Linked DNA regions of Homo sapiens. The protein of the gene in region 2 purifies or fractionates together with the protein of the main gene of each other region. This does not show direct contact. Each region holds a gene or a part of one and is shown on either strand. Other genes may lie near its edges.

Region 1 (3,865 bases), on a different chromosome or scaffold from region 2:
TAGCTAGGATTATTGGGTGCCCCACACCTGGCTAATTTTTGTATTTTTAGTAGAGACTAAAATACACTACCATGTTGGCCAGGCTGGTCTTAAACTCCTGACCTCAAGTGATCCACCAGTTTTGGTCTCCCAAAGTGTTTGGATTACAGGTGTGAGCCACCATGCCCGGCCTCCATTTTCTTTTGATTGTGTTTTTTTGTTGTTTATAAGTAGGAGAAAAAAGTACACATTAGAATGACTTGTAGAAGTTTTGCAGGAAATAAGGTATAAATTAAAATAATTTACATTTGTTGCTAATTCATCATCCAAACTGAAGCTGAGATGAGAGGACAAATGGAAGCTAAAGGGAAAAATTATATGTAAGTTTTGATTTGGGGTTAGTAAAGTAATCCTGCAATGCAGTACCTCTCAACCAGGGGTTATTTTTCCCCTCGGGGACATTTAGCAATGTCTGGAGAGGGTTTTGGTTGTCATAAGCAAAAGTGCAACTGGTATCTGGTGGGCAGGGGCCAGAGATGCTGCTAAACATCTTGCAATGCACAGGACAGCTCTCCACAACAACGGATTACCACAACTCAAAGTGCTAATGTTGCCAAGGCTGAGACACCCTATGAAGGAAATGGTGCAAAGCATACGCTTAAATCTTCACTCTTATATTCATCTTCATCCTGTTCTTTTTCTTCTTCATCTTCTTCAGTCTCCTCTTCAAGCCTCAACCAGTACCATGCTTCCCTGGGAACCTGAATATTCTGAAAATGCAGAAGTAGTCTCAATTAAACATACTAAACATAAGAGCATGACAAATATGTTCATGTCAACATGAATTCATTCTTTCAATACGTATTCACTGAGTGTGGCTTTAAGAGTAAAAACACTGGCCGGGCACGGTGGCTCACGCCTGCAATCCCAGCACTTTGGGAGGGAGAGGTGGGTGGATCACGAGGTCAAGAGATCAAGATCATCCTGACCAACATGGTGAAACCCCATCTCTACTAAAAATACAAAAATTAGCTGGGCGTGGTAGTGCATGCCTGTCGTCCCAGCTACTCAGGAGGCCGAGGCAGGAGAATTGCTTGAACCCAGGAGGTGGAGGTTGCAGTGAGCCAAAATCACGCCACTGTACTCTAGCCTGGTGACAGAGTGAGACTCCATCTCAAAAAAAAAGTGAAAACATTGTACCATGAACTATGGGGATGCAAAGTCCAATTCTTTAGAATTGTGCAGTTGTCTTTAAGTTCCTTCTGACAGTCTAGCAGGAAAGATAGGCTATGGGTACAAAATAATACATATATGCTACAAAATCATAAGTGCCATGAAATACATTCAAAGTAAAGTAATATGTAAGAACAGGAAAGTGAGAGATTGCTTCCAGTAATCTATATATAAGGGAAATTTTACAAAGCTTTTTGAGACTTCAAATGAAGTCATTTTATTTTCAGAGTACTTGAACCACTAAGATAAAAGCAAAGACAGAATTTATTTACTTATTTATTTTTTTTGTAGAGCTGGGGACTTGCTATGTTGTCCAGGCTGGTCACAAACTCCTGGACTCAAGCAATCCTGCAGCCTCGTCCTCTCAAAGTGCTGAGATTACAGACATGAGCCACCATGCCCAGCCAGAGACAGAATTTTTTAAAAACTATTCAAATTTGAACTAGATAGCATTCCACCTTGATTTTATTTTTGAGACAGGGTCTCACTCTGTCACCCAGGCTGGAGTGCAGTGGCATGAACATAGCTCAATGCAACCTCAACCTTCTGGGCTCAAGTGATTCTCCCACTTCAGCCTCCTGAGTAGATAGGACTACAGGTGTGTGCCACCACATGCAGCTAATTTTAAGATGTTTTGTAGAGATGGAGTCTTGAAATGTTATCCAGGCTGGTCTCGAACTCCTGGGCTGAAATAATCATCCTGCCTTTGCCTCCCAAAGTGCTAGGATTACAGGATTGAGCCATCATGCCTGGCCCACTCTGATTTTAATAGTTAGACATATATTAGATACTGAATAGGAACTGAAAATAGGCTATTCTTGTTAATCAAATATTATAAAGAACAGAATTTCTGCACATAATAGTCATAACTGATATTCAAATAAGCAGAGAACAATTAAATGTAAAATTTTATTTAACCCTTTTTGTTTTACTATAGTTAGTATAAAACTATAAAACTATAGTTACTATAAAACCCTGGGTTTTATAGTAACCCAGACAACTCAGGTTACTATAGTAAATAATAAGCCATTTTTATATCAATTGTCACAGATCAGAAGTGCACATTACATGAAAGCTTTAATGAGTAGATAAACCGGGCTTGGAGTTCTTAGTTTTATATATATATATAATATATATATTATATATATAAATACATAAAATATATATAATATATAAGACATATGTAAAAAATATATAAATATATATGATACATATAAATATATGTAATACATATATAAACATATAATACATATATAAATATATATAATACATATATAAAATATATATATATATAATAAATAAACGGGAAATCACAGGGGGTGCCAAAACACTTTACTAAACTGAAAGCTGGTAAAAGGCTTACTTTCTGGACATCCAGTTGTTGACAGGCTCGCTGGCTTCTTCTGAGATCTCCTTCTAGCTTCATTTCATCTTGCTTATTTTTAAGTCGCATTCTAATTGAAAGAAAAAATTGTAAACTAAAGGTCTACGTTATCTTTAACCATTTTATATGCCCAAGTACCAGAGAACATACCACAATAAAGAGGAAATAGAACCAAAACCAGCTCAAAAATAGTTTTACCGAAACTGTTCTGCAGCTTTTTCTTCAGCTTGGTTTTTCATGTGAATCTTTTTTCTGTAGCTTTCCAATTTTTCCTCTGCTTTCCGTTTTAATGATGCCTCATGACCAATGCCACTTTTCCCTATTCAAACAGAAAATTCTGATGAGAAACATCCTGACTTTGTGCTTCAAAACAAGACGATTTAACTATGTACAAATTAAATGCAATTCTCATTTGAGTACTATCACTCACAAATCATTTGAGTACACTAATAGTAGAAAACACTAGGGTTTTTTTTAAGCCCAAAACATAATCTGATTTTTACAAAGATTGTTAATCTCATCTTATAGTAATATTATAAACAATTTTTCAAATCAGAAAAACAGTATTAGCTGTTATAGTTTTATTTAAATATGAATAAAATATATCTTTTTCTCTTGAATTCATCCAAGTATTAAGCAAAACATTTGGTAGATAAATCTGTCTCAGAACACTTTTATTTTATTTTATTTTTATAGGGACAGGCTGGTATGTAGTGGCACAATCATGGCTCACTGTAACCTCGAACTTGTGGGCTCCAGGAATCGTCCCGCCTCAGCCTCCTGAATAGCAAGGACTACAGGTGCGTGCCACTACACCCGGTTAATTTTTTAAATTTTTTGCAGAGATGAGGTCTTGCTATGTTGCCCAGGCTGGTCTCAAATTCCTGGCTGCTTTTTTTTTTTTTTCCTTGAGATGGAATTTCACTCTTGTTGCCCAGGCTGGAGTGCAATGGCGCAATCTTAGCTCACTGCAATCTCTGCCTCCTGGGTTCAAGCGATTCTCCTGCCTCAGCCTCCCAAGTAGCTGGGATTACAGGCATGCACCACCATGCCCGGCTAATTCTGTATTTTTAGTAGAGATGGGGTTTCTCCATGTTGGTCAGGCTGGTCTTGAACTCCCAACCTCAGGTGATCTGCCTGCCTCGGCCACCCAAAGTGCTGGGATTACAGGTGTGAGCCACCACGCCCGGCCAACTCTTGGCTTTAAGCAATCCTTCTGCATCGGCCTCCCAGAGCAAAACAGTTTTAAGACATTTCAATGGACAAAAA
Region 2 (3,937 bases):
AGTGAAGTGGGTACCATTTTTGCTATTAATGGATTGTTTGCCTTTAGTTATAAATGTTATCTTACTGTGGAAAGGAATTTAGAGTTTGTTAAGATAACTTGAGTTTAAAAGTAGGTGAGATATGACTATCCAAATTAAATATAAATCTGGGAAGAGTTTTTATACTTGTTTTAATATTTTTGTTTATTTTAATCGGTAAGTATGTGTGTGTATATATATATACATATATAAAACATCACACACGCACACCAGTCTAGACGTTAATTTCCTTTTATTGACCAGCTTGTTCACATTACAGATATGATGGACGTGGTCACCTGCATGACCTTTCTGAGTACGATGCTGAGTATTCCACGTGGAACAGAGATTATCAGCTGTCTGAAGAGGAGGCGCGAATAGAGGCCCTGTGTGATGAAGAGAGGTATTTAGCCTTGCATACGGACTTGCTTGAGGAGGAGGCAAGGCAAGGTACTGCTCAAGACAAACTTACTTCAGCAACAAACTTTTTAAAATTTTTAAGTATTTAAAAATTTACTCCCATTCATTTTTTTATACTCACTCTTTCTGATATTATCTTGACAGTACCCAGTGGATTGGAAAAACAGGAGTCTTTGCGTTCTGAGAGGACCTCAGGATAGTTTATATATAGAGCCACAAAGAATTTTCCCAGCTTTTGAGGGCAGACTGGGATTTGAAAAAAACAAAAACCAAACTCTTTAACTGTTCTTCTTTAACAGTATCGTATAAATAAAATTGATGTTCTTGTCTTTGCCGTAACAGTCTTTAATACAGTTCTTAATCCCAAAATTTTCTCAGCAGGAAGAAATTTTCCACAAAAGACGTGTATTCAGCTGTCTGTGGGTAAACATGTACTGACAAAAGTACATAATGATAGATATAAAGTGTGAATTTTTAAAACTATTTTACCTCAAAAGTAGGTTGAAAAAAGTATGTTGTATGCTTTACTGATAGCTACAACTTTAGAAATATATAAAGTTTTTCTCAGTAATTTTCTATTTTTGTTGATAAAATTCTCATTTTTATTCAAGAGGAAGAATACAAGCGATTGAGTGAAGCACTAGCAGAGGATGGGAGCTACAATGCCGTGGGGTTCACTTACGGTAGCGACTATTACGACCCGTCAGAGCCGACGGAGGAGGAGGAGCCTTCCAAACAGAGAGGTGAGTGGGGAGCTGCCTGGACTGCTGGTGTAGGGCTACACGTGTACGCACAGGCTGCATGCACCGTGGTCCAGTCTGCAGAACACATCTCTGGCACTCATGATAGCACCACTATGACCACAGGAGAAAACGGGAGTGATATTCCTTCTTTTGGTAAAACGAAGTTAAAAACTAGAATGATTAATGGAGGTGGAAAGTGAATGCGTTGGATTATTTATTTCTCATTGATTCGGGTAACAGAATTACTCATTCAGGATTATTTGTTTCTAGATTGGTAACATGTTCATTAATATCCTCAGGGATTCATTCTTGAGGCAGTGAAAGAATAGGTGTTAACTGGGATAAGTTAACATCACCGCCCTCTCACTGACCTGCTTCCCCATATCCCTCCACAACTGAGACAGTGACACATGCCCAGTGGAAGGACACAGTGAGGGAGTTTCTACTCCCCAGAAAACAGCACAGCTTCCTGGTAGCCTTGATGCCACCTAGGGCATATACTTACCACAGTATTTTAAATTAAAGATTTGGAATTTATGCTTTTCTGGATTAACATGGGAAACTTTGAATATAAAAAATAGTGCTGCTGAAAAACCTGGGCTCGTGTAGTATAGACACAAATATCCTCAATCACTTCACTAAGCGTCGAGAGCTCCACTACCACAGCGCTGCATCATGGTCAGTCGTTAATTAGCAGTAATGCTAACATGAACCTGACACCTTAAAGACGGGTCAGTATATTCAGGATATTCTGTTTAAAAAGAAGAAGAACATTAACTTAGAAACATTCAAATGTTTACATTACATCAAATGGAGATTTAATTGTAGAGCTAATTTAATCTGTTATTCTGAACTTCATCGGTTTCTCCTTAAGTAACACTTTTTATCTTTTTAAATTTTTTTATTAAAATACACAATAATTTAAAAAAAGAGATGGGGTCTCACTGTGTTGCCCAAGCTAGTCTCAAACTCCTGAGCTCAAGTGATCCTACTGCCTTGGCCTCCCAAAGCACTGGGATTACAGGCATGAGCCACCACATCCAGCCAAGTGACACATCTTTTAACAAGTATGAAGCAATTATAGCACTTTAGTAGTAAAGCAAAATGATGTTTGCCCTTCCATCCTGTGACTGCACTATGGTTCTACCCATCGGCACTCTCCAAGGGCTGCGATCCTAACGGAATGATAGGACGTGGGGCAAACGCACACACCGGCTTTCCTTTTGCCCTGTCTTTAGTCCTGCTCCTTACTTTGTGGGCACAAGAATTACTGTTGCACAGCTCTATTTTATGAGCTTTTAGAGAAACTTTCAAGTGTAATTGTAATTATACTGAGTTAAAGGCCAGTTAAGGTATTTAAGACTTTTTGCATTGACTTTCAAACCTACCCATCCCTCAGAAGTTACGATGCACTAGAAATGTTCTATCAGGTCTAAAACGTAAACACCCATTTATTTATCCAGAATAAGCTCTCCTTCCTCGGGTTCTGGATAGTTCTGATTTTGTTGTCTTATCTCTAAGCCACACACATGAGTTCAGCTTTCTATCTGTGGTGTTTTTATCAGAAGGAAGGAATAGATACTATAGCCACTTCACAAATAAAGAGTTGAAATACAGTCAGCTTATTGGGTCCACATCTGTGGATTCAACCAACCACAGATCTAAAGTATTGGAAAGAAAATAACAAAGTTTTATTGGAACACAGCAATGCTCATTTGTTTACATATTGTCTGTTGCCACTTTCGCACTTCAGCAACAGAGTTGAAGAAATGAAACACCATATGGCCCACAAAACCAGAAATATTTATTAATACTGTCTGGCATTTTATAGAGTTTGTCAGCCCCTATTCTAGATGATGGACCATTGTCTCGGCGTAATTATTGGGCTAAATGATGTTCAGTTTGTTATAATTATTGAATCTTGAGAACTTCAGCATGACTTAGCTTATCATCTGAGTATTAGTTTGCTTTCCCCTTAAGATAAAGTTCTCTTTAGTATTTTACAATGTTACTTCTTTTCTTTCTGTAATCGTGTTCTCAGAACATTGCCTTATATACTGATTAATTTCGTTAATGGAAATTGGGCCCACATAAAACTTAGAGCTTGACATTTCGTGTTTAACTTGCATTAATATAAGTGAAACACCTAACACACACACACACATACGTGCATATTGTAATAGAATCCAGTACCACTAACAGCCCCATTGAGCGTCACATTCTGTTAAAATAAAATTTTTTTTCCTGAGCCATCAATATGTCTACGTATGTCTTGATTTTCAAAATTACTGTATTGTATTGTTTGTTAGTATTTTAAAGCCTTGTGATACTAGCCAAAAGCATTTTGATGGTGCCTCCATCTCTGATCTTTACTATTTTCAGTCAAGTTTTTATCCTTTAGATGTTCATAATTTTTCATCATTATTCTATATCCATTTTTTTCCCTCTTTTTTAGGGGAATAATGGGGCGGGGACAGGCCCTCACTGCTATATATCCATTTTTTAAACAAAAGGTTATTTGAATTTATTTAAATCTGAGTTTGTAGTGCAATGGTTGGTTTTTATTTTGTGCTACTAAAGCTGTTTTTTTGTAAATAAAGGTATATATAAGAATAGACCAAATCTGTTTAACCCATCAATCCCAAAAAGCTATTTCAATTAAAATGCCTTGATTTTTATGAATAACTTAACATTAAGGAGAAGCTATTTGCCTAGACAATGTTTTAATCATTTTTTTCATTTTAGGAAAATATAGT
Region 3 (3,865 bases), on a different chromosome or scaffold from region 2:
GAACACTGAGGCTCAGCAACTGACTTGTCAGGGTCATATGACCAGTCAGCAGTAGCATCTCGATTCAAACCCAGATTGTCGTCACTCAGATTCAGACTCTCAACTCTACACAGTTCTGCCTTCCCAAGACCAGCCACCTCTCTTAAAAGTAGATTTTTAAAAGTCAATCCTCTGATTTCTTTCTAAGTATACATATTTTTTTCCTATCATTCATAAAGCATTTGTTTCAAGCAAAAAAACTGAAAACCTCGCTGTTCAAGTAGAAAATCCAGCTATGGCTCTATAATTCTGAAATTCCCGTTCCAGGAAATGTATACTGTTGACTTTTTCAAAAGATTAGTGAGCTGTGAGCCCTCTCCTGAGAGGATTACATCTTACTTCAGGGCGACCAGGTGGCTCCTGATGTTCTGAAATACTCGAACTTGGCCACACACTCTGGAATTTTAAATTAGTTACCAGTATTTACTAACAAAGGAAAACAACCCATGTATATAAAACACATACACCCGCACACAAACACCCTTTATTGGTTGCCAGATAATGATTTGTCTGAAGTGTGTTGTCTGAGTTGGTGTGCGAATTTCGTATTATAAAAGCAAATGACAATAGCATTCCAACAGGGACCTAGGCCAAAGTCAAGAGGAAAGAATATCCAAACGTAGCATTAGCATTCCAGAAGTCAAATGACTATTATTATGTCAGTGGGGCAAAAGCCTATGCCCATTGAGCTGTTTGTACATGACGCAGTCATATTGCACTAACAGACATTTCACTAATAATGAAAACCAGTAGGAGGCTGAGCGTAAAGCTGGATGTTATGACTCGCGACTGTAGATTACCTGAATCCAGTAAATTTACTGTCTCCCACATCTATTGTTCTTTTTACAATATTGTTCCACCTCTGCCTCAAACAATACAATGGAAAAGGCGTTATGGATGGCACATGTACAAAGAGTCAAACACCTGCCCTATATTTCCAACTTTCACCTTGCTTCGCAAATTATAGCACAATGTTACAGCAACAGCAAATTTTAGTCTTACAGCTGCCCACTTCTGCTGTGCAAAGGACAAGATTAGGAGGATTTTGGAAAGAAAGCAAAAAAAAAAATCCACCTCCCTAGGGACATAATAAATGCATTTGTCATTGTGCCCCTGCCACACTAAATGTGCATAACATACACTGCCTTAATTTTATGAACTAATTATGGGATCAAAGTGACAAAAATTCCAAGTCTCTCTTGTTCATGAATAATGAAGTGGGACAGTATAAGTGAGAGGATGGCCTGAGAACCAAGGCTTCCCAGGTGCCACATATCGTCCTAAACAACTGAAATGCTGCCCAAGGGGGCATCGGGATTAGAGGTTATCTGCAGCTGGCTTCTGAACAAGCTCCCACAGCAAGGGAAATGGCTGGGTATGCTGGGATCTCCTGTGGCATAAGGACCTCACTCTGGGCTGTGGGGCAGATGTGGCAACCCCAATTCCTTGGGTGATGGGCTTCTCTGGGCATCTCCCCCCATGCTCAGGGAGAAGGGAGCTGATCTCTAGGGGAAGGGTGCATATCTTGACAGAGGCCGCCGCCACTGCAGCCTTCCTCCTGCTCTGAAGTGCTCTCATCAGGGGTCAGCTGGGGATCATCTGCCTACATGCCAATGCCTGGCACTCACCCATTCATGCACTTGCTCATTCACCAAGTACACATGTATGTATGCAGCCAGGCCCCACAGAAGCTCAATGAAGATTACCTGAAGAGCTTGTATTTGTATATTGCAACTAGGAATGACAACAACAACTCACTGGCAGGAGCCAATGTGCCAGGCACAGTGCTAAGTGCTTTGCATATTTTATTTCATTTAACCTTCATCACAGCCTATAAGATAGAAGGTACTGGTCTCCTTTCTCATTTAAGGGTATAGGTTCAGAAATGTTAAACTACAAGGCAACGCTGAAGAGGAAATGTCAGATCTGGGACTCAAATCCAAGCCCATCTGACTCCAAGGCTATGCCCTCTCAGCTGTTAACCCAGGCTTTAATTGTTTCTGAATTAATATCCCAGATGTTTCTCATTTAATCCTCCCAAACACCTGTGAGATCGAAAATTCAGGTATTATGCACATTCTTTTCAAATAGGAACTAAGGTCAGAAAGGATCACGCAAAGACAAGAAAATATAGCACTGTGGCCAGATGTGTAGACCCTGCTCAGTCACCTTGGGGAGGCTGCTTCAGTTCTGCCAGCCTCAGCTTCGCAATCTGTAAAATGGGGTGAATGGTAGTCCCTACCTCATTAGGTTGCTGGGAGAATTTAATGGGATGTCATAAGTAAAGGGCTTATCACAGTACCTGGAATGCAGAAACTACAGCATTGAGCGTTACCTGTTTTTACTATTAGATTAAGCAATTTGCCCAGGGCCACGGTGGAAATGCACACAGAAAAGATAAAAAGAGAGATGCCACTGCTTAAGGCCAATGACCCTTCCTTTAACAACACAGCATCTCCAAAGATGTGAATCTTTGAAAATGCTCCAAGCTCTTGACCTGTTACTCATAAAATAAGAAAATGATTTCATTGGAGATGGAACAAAGGTGGGCAAAGGAAGCCTCCTAGACTGAATGGAGCTGAGAGGGTAAGCTATCCAGCAGGAAAGAGAGAAAGCCAAAACGAGGACAGCCTGTCCCACAGGAGGCTTAGCCAGGGCCCCGCAGTTGGTCTGAGGCTCTGCTGCCACATCCTGGAATTCTTAATAATTTTTTAACAAGGGATTCTGCATTTTGCACTGAGGACCACAAATTACATAGCCAGTTCTGATCTCAGCAAGTCCTCAGATTCAACTGCCTACAAAATTCCAGACGCTGAACAAATCCATGCCTGTTGGACTGGCGTGACTCAGTTCTGTCCTACTGCCCTGGTTCATTCTCTCAAGTCAGCCTCTCTAACATCCAAGAGGACAAGAACAGTCTTCCCCATCAGCAAGCATTATCTGGCACGTTCTGTGATGAGCAGCATCCATTTTTATTGGCACAGGCACGCACACATACACACACTTAATAAGTATTACGGTAATGGCATGTGCAGGCCCCAAATATCAACTGGCAGTTGTTTCACCTAAAATGGAAAACTCGAGGTCTGTTTTGTGAACCCACAGCATTTATAGCCTTACCCACCTTGCCTGTCCAGATCATTTACATGCATAACAGTCCTTTTAACCTTGGGAGGGTACTGTTTTCCATTAACAGGTGCCAAGATAAATACTCTGAAGTGCACAAAGTGAAGGAACAGCCATCCATTTCTTGTGAAAAGATAATGCTTTCCTTTCCAATATGGCCTTGAAATGTGCGCCAATAGTTTGGTTTCTGAGTTGTTTATTTTCATAATGTTGATTTGGGGTAACTGGGAAGCTATGCAACATATAAATTTAATACATGTTATAAATTTAGTGCCTTAAACAGCCTTGGAATGAGCACCCAATGAGTGTTGTTCAAAGCAAATGGAAGTTGAAATGTTTACCATTTATTAGAAATGAACTGGACTATTTTCAAGTATGTATTTGTAAAAAATAATTCCCTTCTGAAAAGTAGACGTGCTGGCTATGCACACAGAAATCCCCTAAAACACATCAGCTATACAAATACCTAATCTGCCAAGGGTGAGCTGTAAGTACAGGCCAAAGTACTGGGCTGTCGAAGGGGCTTAGAGTCTGGTTTTACATTATAGAACAACCACTTCAGACAGAGTCTGTTGGTCACTAAATATTTAGGAAAATCACAAAAAATCAAGCATCCTCCTCTTCCTCATATCATTTTCTTCCTGTAAAGGAGAAGCAAAATTTTGTTTAATGGACCAAAGAGGGCTGATAAGGATTCTGT
Region 4 (3,865 bases), about 14 Mb from region 2:
GAGAGGGGAGGGATAGCATTAGGAGATATACCTAATGTTAAATGACGAGTTAATGAGTGCAGCACACCAACATGGCACATGTATGCATATGTAACTAACCTGCACATTGTGCACATGTACCCTAAAACTTAAAGTATAATAATAATAAAATAAAAAAAAGGTTTTTTTTTTTTTGAGACTGAGTTTCACTCTTGTTGCCCAGGCTGGAGTGCAATGGTGCGATCTCAGCTCACTGCAACCTCTGCCTCCTGGGTTCAAGCGATTCTTATTGCCTCAGCCTTCTGAGTAGCTGGGATTACAGGCACACGCCACCACACCTAGCTAATTTTTTTGTATTTTTAGTAGAGATGGAGTTTCACCATGTTGGCCAGGCTGGTCTCAAACTCGTGACCTCAAGTAATCTGCCCATCTCGGCCTCCCAATTGCTGGAACTACAGGTGTGAGCCTCCGTGCCCAGCTGCCCATATTCTTTTTATCACGTCATTCTGTTTATTTCCCTCCCAGCACCAATAACCATGTGAAATCCTTCTGTGAGCATGTTTTCTTGTCTATCATGGCTGCTTTGGCAGAATGTAAGTCCAGGGGACCAGGGTCTCATCTGTGTTGCTTTTGTGTCTTTTCCAAGCAAAGGGCATAGTTGGCACTCACAGGATGTTTACTGGACAAATGCATGAATAAGAACATGGCGACACAGATCTGGAGGAAGTATGCGGTGGCTGAGGAAGTGGTCAGGGAGGGACTAAGGATGAACTTGACTTCCTTGGAATTTGTGTATCTCACATGAGGGTTAGGTATTAAAATTTCCATGTAAGGGAAAAGTTATCCTTTAAAGTCCTTTAAATCACTTTGAAACTACCAGAACTGGGACCTTGGGAAGTTCAAAAAGTGAGAATTAACTTCTTTGCTTTTCTGAGCATTTGGGCTGTGGGGTCTTCCCAGCTATGGGGCAGTGGAAGGCAAGGCTGTTGAATGGAGAATAGGGTAACAGGGTCAACAAGGGGATTTTATTGTCTTTTTGGAGGAGCCAAGTAGAGATGGTTGGCTTTATGTAAATGTACTTATGATGTAATGTGGGTATGATGTAACATGCATTTGATAGAATGTCTGTAAGAGGTAATGGGCATATGAAATAGCATGCATATGATGTAATGCACATATAATGTGACATGCATATGGTGTAATGTGCATATGATATGTGCATATAACATGCATACAACATAACAGATATATAGTGTAACATGCATATGATATGATGTGCATATGATATAACATGCATACGATGTAACAGGTATATAGTGTAACATGCATATGATGTAATGGGCACATGGTATAATGTGCATAAGATATAATTTGCATATGAGATAACATGCATACGATGTAACAGGTATATAGTGTAACATGCACATGATGTAATGGGCACGTGGTGTAATGTGTGTATGATGTAATGGTGTGTATGGTGTAACTCACCTGGCTTTCTCATGGCTTACCCATTGTCTCTGCTCTTCTGTTCCAACTCAGGAGGCAACCTTTCCAAACAAGACTGGACCATCCAGTGGCCCACGACAGAGACGGGGAAGGAGAACAATCCCGTGTGCCCCCCGGAGCCCACCCCGTGGATCCGCACCCATCTCTCCCAGAGCCCCAGGGTCCCGTCCAAGTGCGTCCAGCACTATTGTCACACCAGCCCCACTCCCGGGGCCCCTGTGTACACCCACGTGGACAGGCTTACCGTGGACGCCTACCCGGGCTTGTGCCCGCCCCCGCCACTGGAGTCGGGCCACCGTTCCCTGCCCCCATCGCCCCGGCAGCGGCACGCGGTCCGCACCCCGCCGCGCACCCCCAACATCGTCACCACCGTGACCCCGCCGGGCACGCCGCCCATGAGGAAGAAGAACAAGCTGAAGCCCCCGGGGACCCCACCGCCCTCCTCCCGAAAACTGATACACTTGATCCCGGGATTCACCGCGCTGCATCGGAGCAAATCCCACGAGTTCCAGCTGGGGCACCGCGTGGACGAGGCCCACACGCCCAAGTGAGTGCGATCGGTGGGTGCCCTGGGGCGGTCGAAACCCGGCCTGCGAGGGGCTGCCCCTTGGTCCCAGGAACTGCCCAGGTCAAGGAAACCGGGAACAGACTTGCGTTCCAGACTCTGGTTGAATGAAAAATGGCTTTTCACAGAGGGTTCTGAGCAAATGAATAGAACAGAATTTCCCAGAATTGGCCGTTTAAAAAATACGATTAATATCCTATGGCCTAGGGGCTAAATCTGATACCCGGCCTGATTTTGTAAATAAAAGGTATTGGAACACGCCCATGATCATTCCTTTATGTGTTGCCTATGGCTGCTTTTGTGTGACAATGGCAGAGTGAGAATAGCCCACAAAGCTGAAAGTATTTACCATCTGGCTTTTTACTGAAAACGTTTGCCAACCCCTGCAGAGTCTAGCCTAGTGCCGCTCCTAGAAATAGGATATGAGGCATATATTAACCTTCAACTTTCTAGTAGTCACATTAAAAAGAATGAAAAGGAACAAGTGATATTAATGATCATAATACATCATTCAACCCAATATATCAAAATTATAATATCTTAACAAAGAATCAATGTAAAATATCATTACAGAGATATTTTGCATTTTTTAAAATACAAAGTCTTTGAAATTGAATGTGTATTTTATATCCACGGCTCATCTCAGTTGAAGGTGGTAGGAAGCAGGACACGTTGGGGAAATTGACAGAGGACCCCTTTGGGGGAGAGAGCAGGTGTGTGATGTAGGGTGAGACTCGAGGATTAGGCAGGTTGCTGTGCTATTCACAGTAGCCAAAAAGTAGAAACAACCTGTGTCCATCAGTAGACAAATGAGTAAACACAGTGTGGTCTATCTATACAATGCAATATTATTCAGGCTTAAAAAGGAAGAAACTTCTTTTTTTTTGAGACGGAGTCTAGCTCTGTTGCCCAGGCTGGAGCAGTGGTGGGATGTCAGCTCACTGCAACCTCTGCCTCCCAGGTTCAAGTGATTCTCCTGCCTCAGCCTCCCAAGTAGCTGGGACTACAGGCCTGTGCCACCACGCCTGGCTAATTTTTTGTAGTTTTTGTAGAGATAGGGTTTCACCATGTTGACCAGACTGGTCTTGAACTTCTGACCTCAAATGATCTGCCCGCCTTGGCCTCCCAAAGTGCTGGGATTACAGGCATGAGCCATCATGCCCGACCTGGGAGGAACTTCTGATATATGCTACAACATGAGTGAACCTTGAAGACAGCATGCTAAGAGTAAAATATGCCAGACACATAATGACAAATACTGTATAATTCCACCAATATGAGATACCTAGAGTAGACAATTTATAGAGGCAGAAAGTAGAACGGTGGATGCCAGGGCTGAGGGGAGGGAGAATGGGGAGTTGTTATTTATTGGATATAGACTTTGCATTTGGGATGATGAAAACATTCTGGAGATGGATGGTGGTGATGGTTGTACAACAATGCAAATGTAATTAGTACCATTGAACTGTACACTTCAAAATGGTTAAGATGGTAAATTTTATATTATGTATATTTTATCACCATTTTAAAAAGGCAGGATTCTGTAAGTGAAGGGTTGGCACACTTTTTCTGTACAGGGGCAGATAGTAAATACTTTAGGCTTTGCAGACCATTCAGTCTCTGTTGCAGTTACTCAACTCTATCATGTAGCACAAAACCAGCACAGACAATAGGTAAACAAATGGGCATGGCAGTGTTCCAATAAAACTTTATTTATAAAAACAGGTACCTGGCCCAATTTGGCCCATGAACTGTGATTTACCAAGCCCTGTCTGAAGCCGTAGTGTAGAGAGTGATCTCTTTTCTGAAGCATTG

What was found.
Region 1: the proteins of SFSWAP (region 2) and GPATCH11 purify together in Homo sapiens (affinity purification with mass spectrometry; one large-scale study listed by BioGRID and IntAct). This does not show direct contact.
Region 3: the proteins of SFSWAP (region 2) and CACNA2D3 purify together in Homo sapiens (affinity purification with mass spectrometry; one large-scale study listed by BioGRID and IntAct). This does not show direct contact.
Region 4: the proteins of SFSWAP (region 2) and KSR2 purify together in Homo sapiens (co-immunoprecipitation; one large-scale study listed by IntAct). This does not show direct contact.

What each region holds. Positions count from the first base shown.
Region 1 is NC_000002.12:37,090,966-37,094,830, reverse strand, and holds part of GPATCH11 (G patch domain-containing protein 11), read right to left. Parts: intron 2,916-3,865; coding exon 2,795-2,915; intron 2,691-2,794; coding exon of another isoform or gene 2,667-2,690; coding exon 2,576-2,666; intron 750-2,575; coding exon 636-749; intron 180-635; exon of another isoform or gene 71-179; intron 1-70.
Region 2 is NC_000012.12:131,713,773-131,717,709, forward strand, and holds part of SFSWAP (splicing factor, suppressor of white-apricot homolog), read left to right. Parts: exon of another isoform or gene 1-298; coding exon 299-468; intron 469-1,049; coding exon 1,050-1,181; intron 1,182-3,937.
Region 3 is NC_000003.12:54,129,000-54,132,864, reverse strand, and holds part of CACNA2D3 (voltage-dependent calcium channel subunit alpha-2/delta-3 precursor), read right to left. Parts: intron 1-3,865. UniProt on the Homo sapiens protein: The alpha-2/delta subunit of voltage-dependent calcium channels regulates calcium current density and activation/inactivation kinetics of the calcium channel.
Region 4 is NC_000012.12:117,759,178-117,763,042, reverse strand, and holds part of KSR2 (kinase suppressor of Ras 2), read left to right. Parts: intron 1-1,518; coding exon 1,519-2,032; intron 2,033-3,865. UniProt on the Homo sapiens protein: Location-regulated scaffold connecting MEK to RAF. Has very low protein kinase activity and can phosphorylate MAP2K1 at several Ser and Thr residues with very low efficiency (in vitro).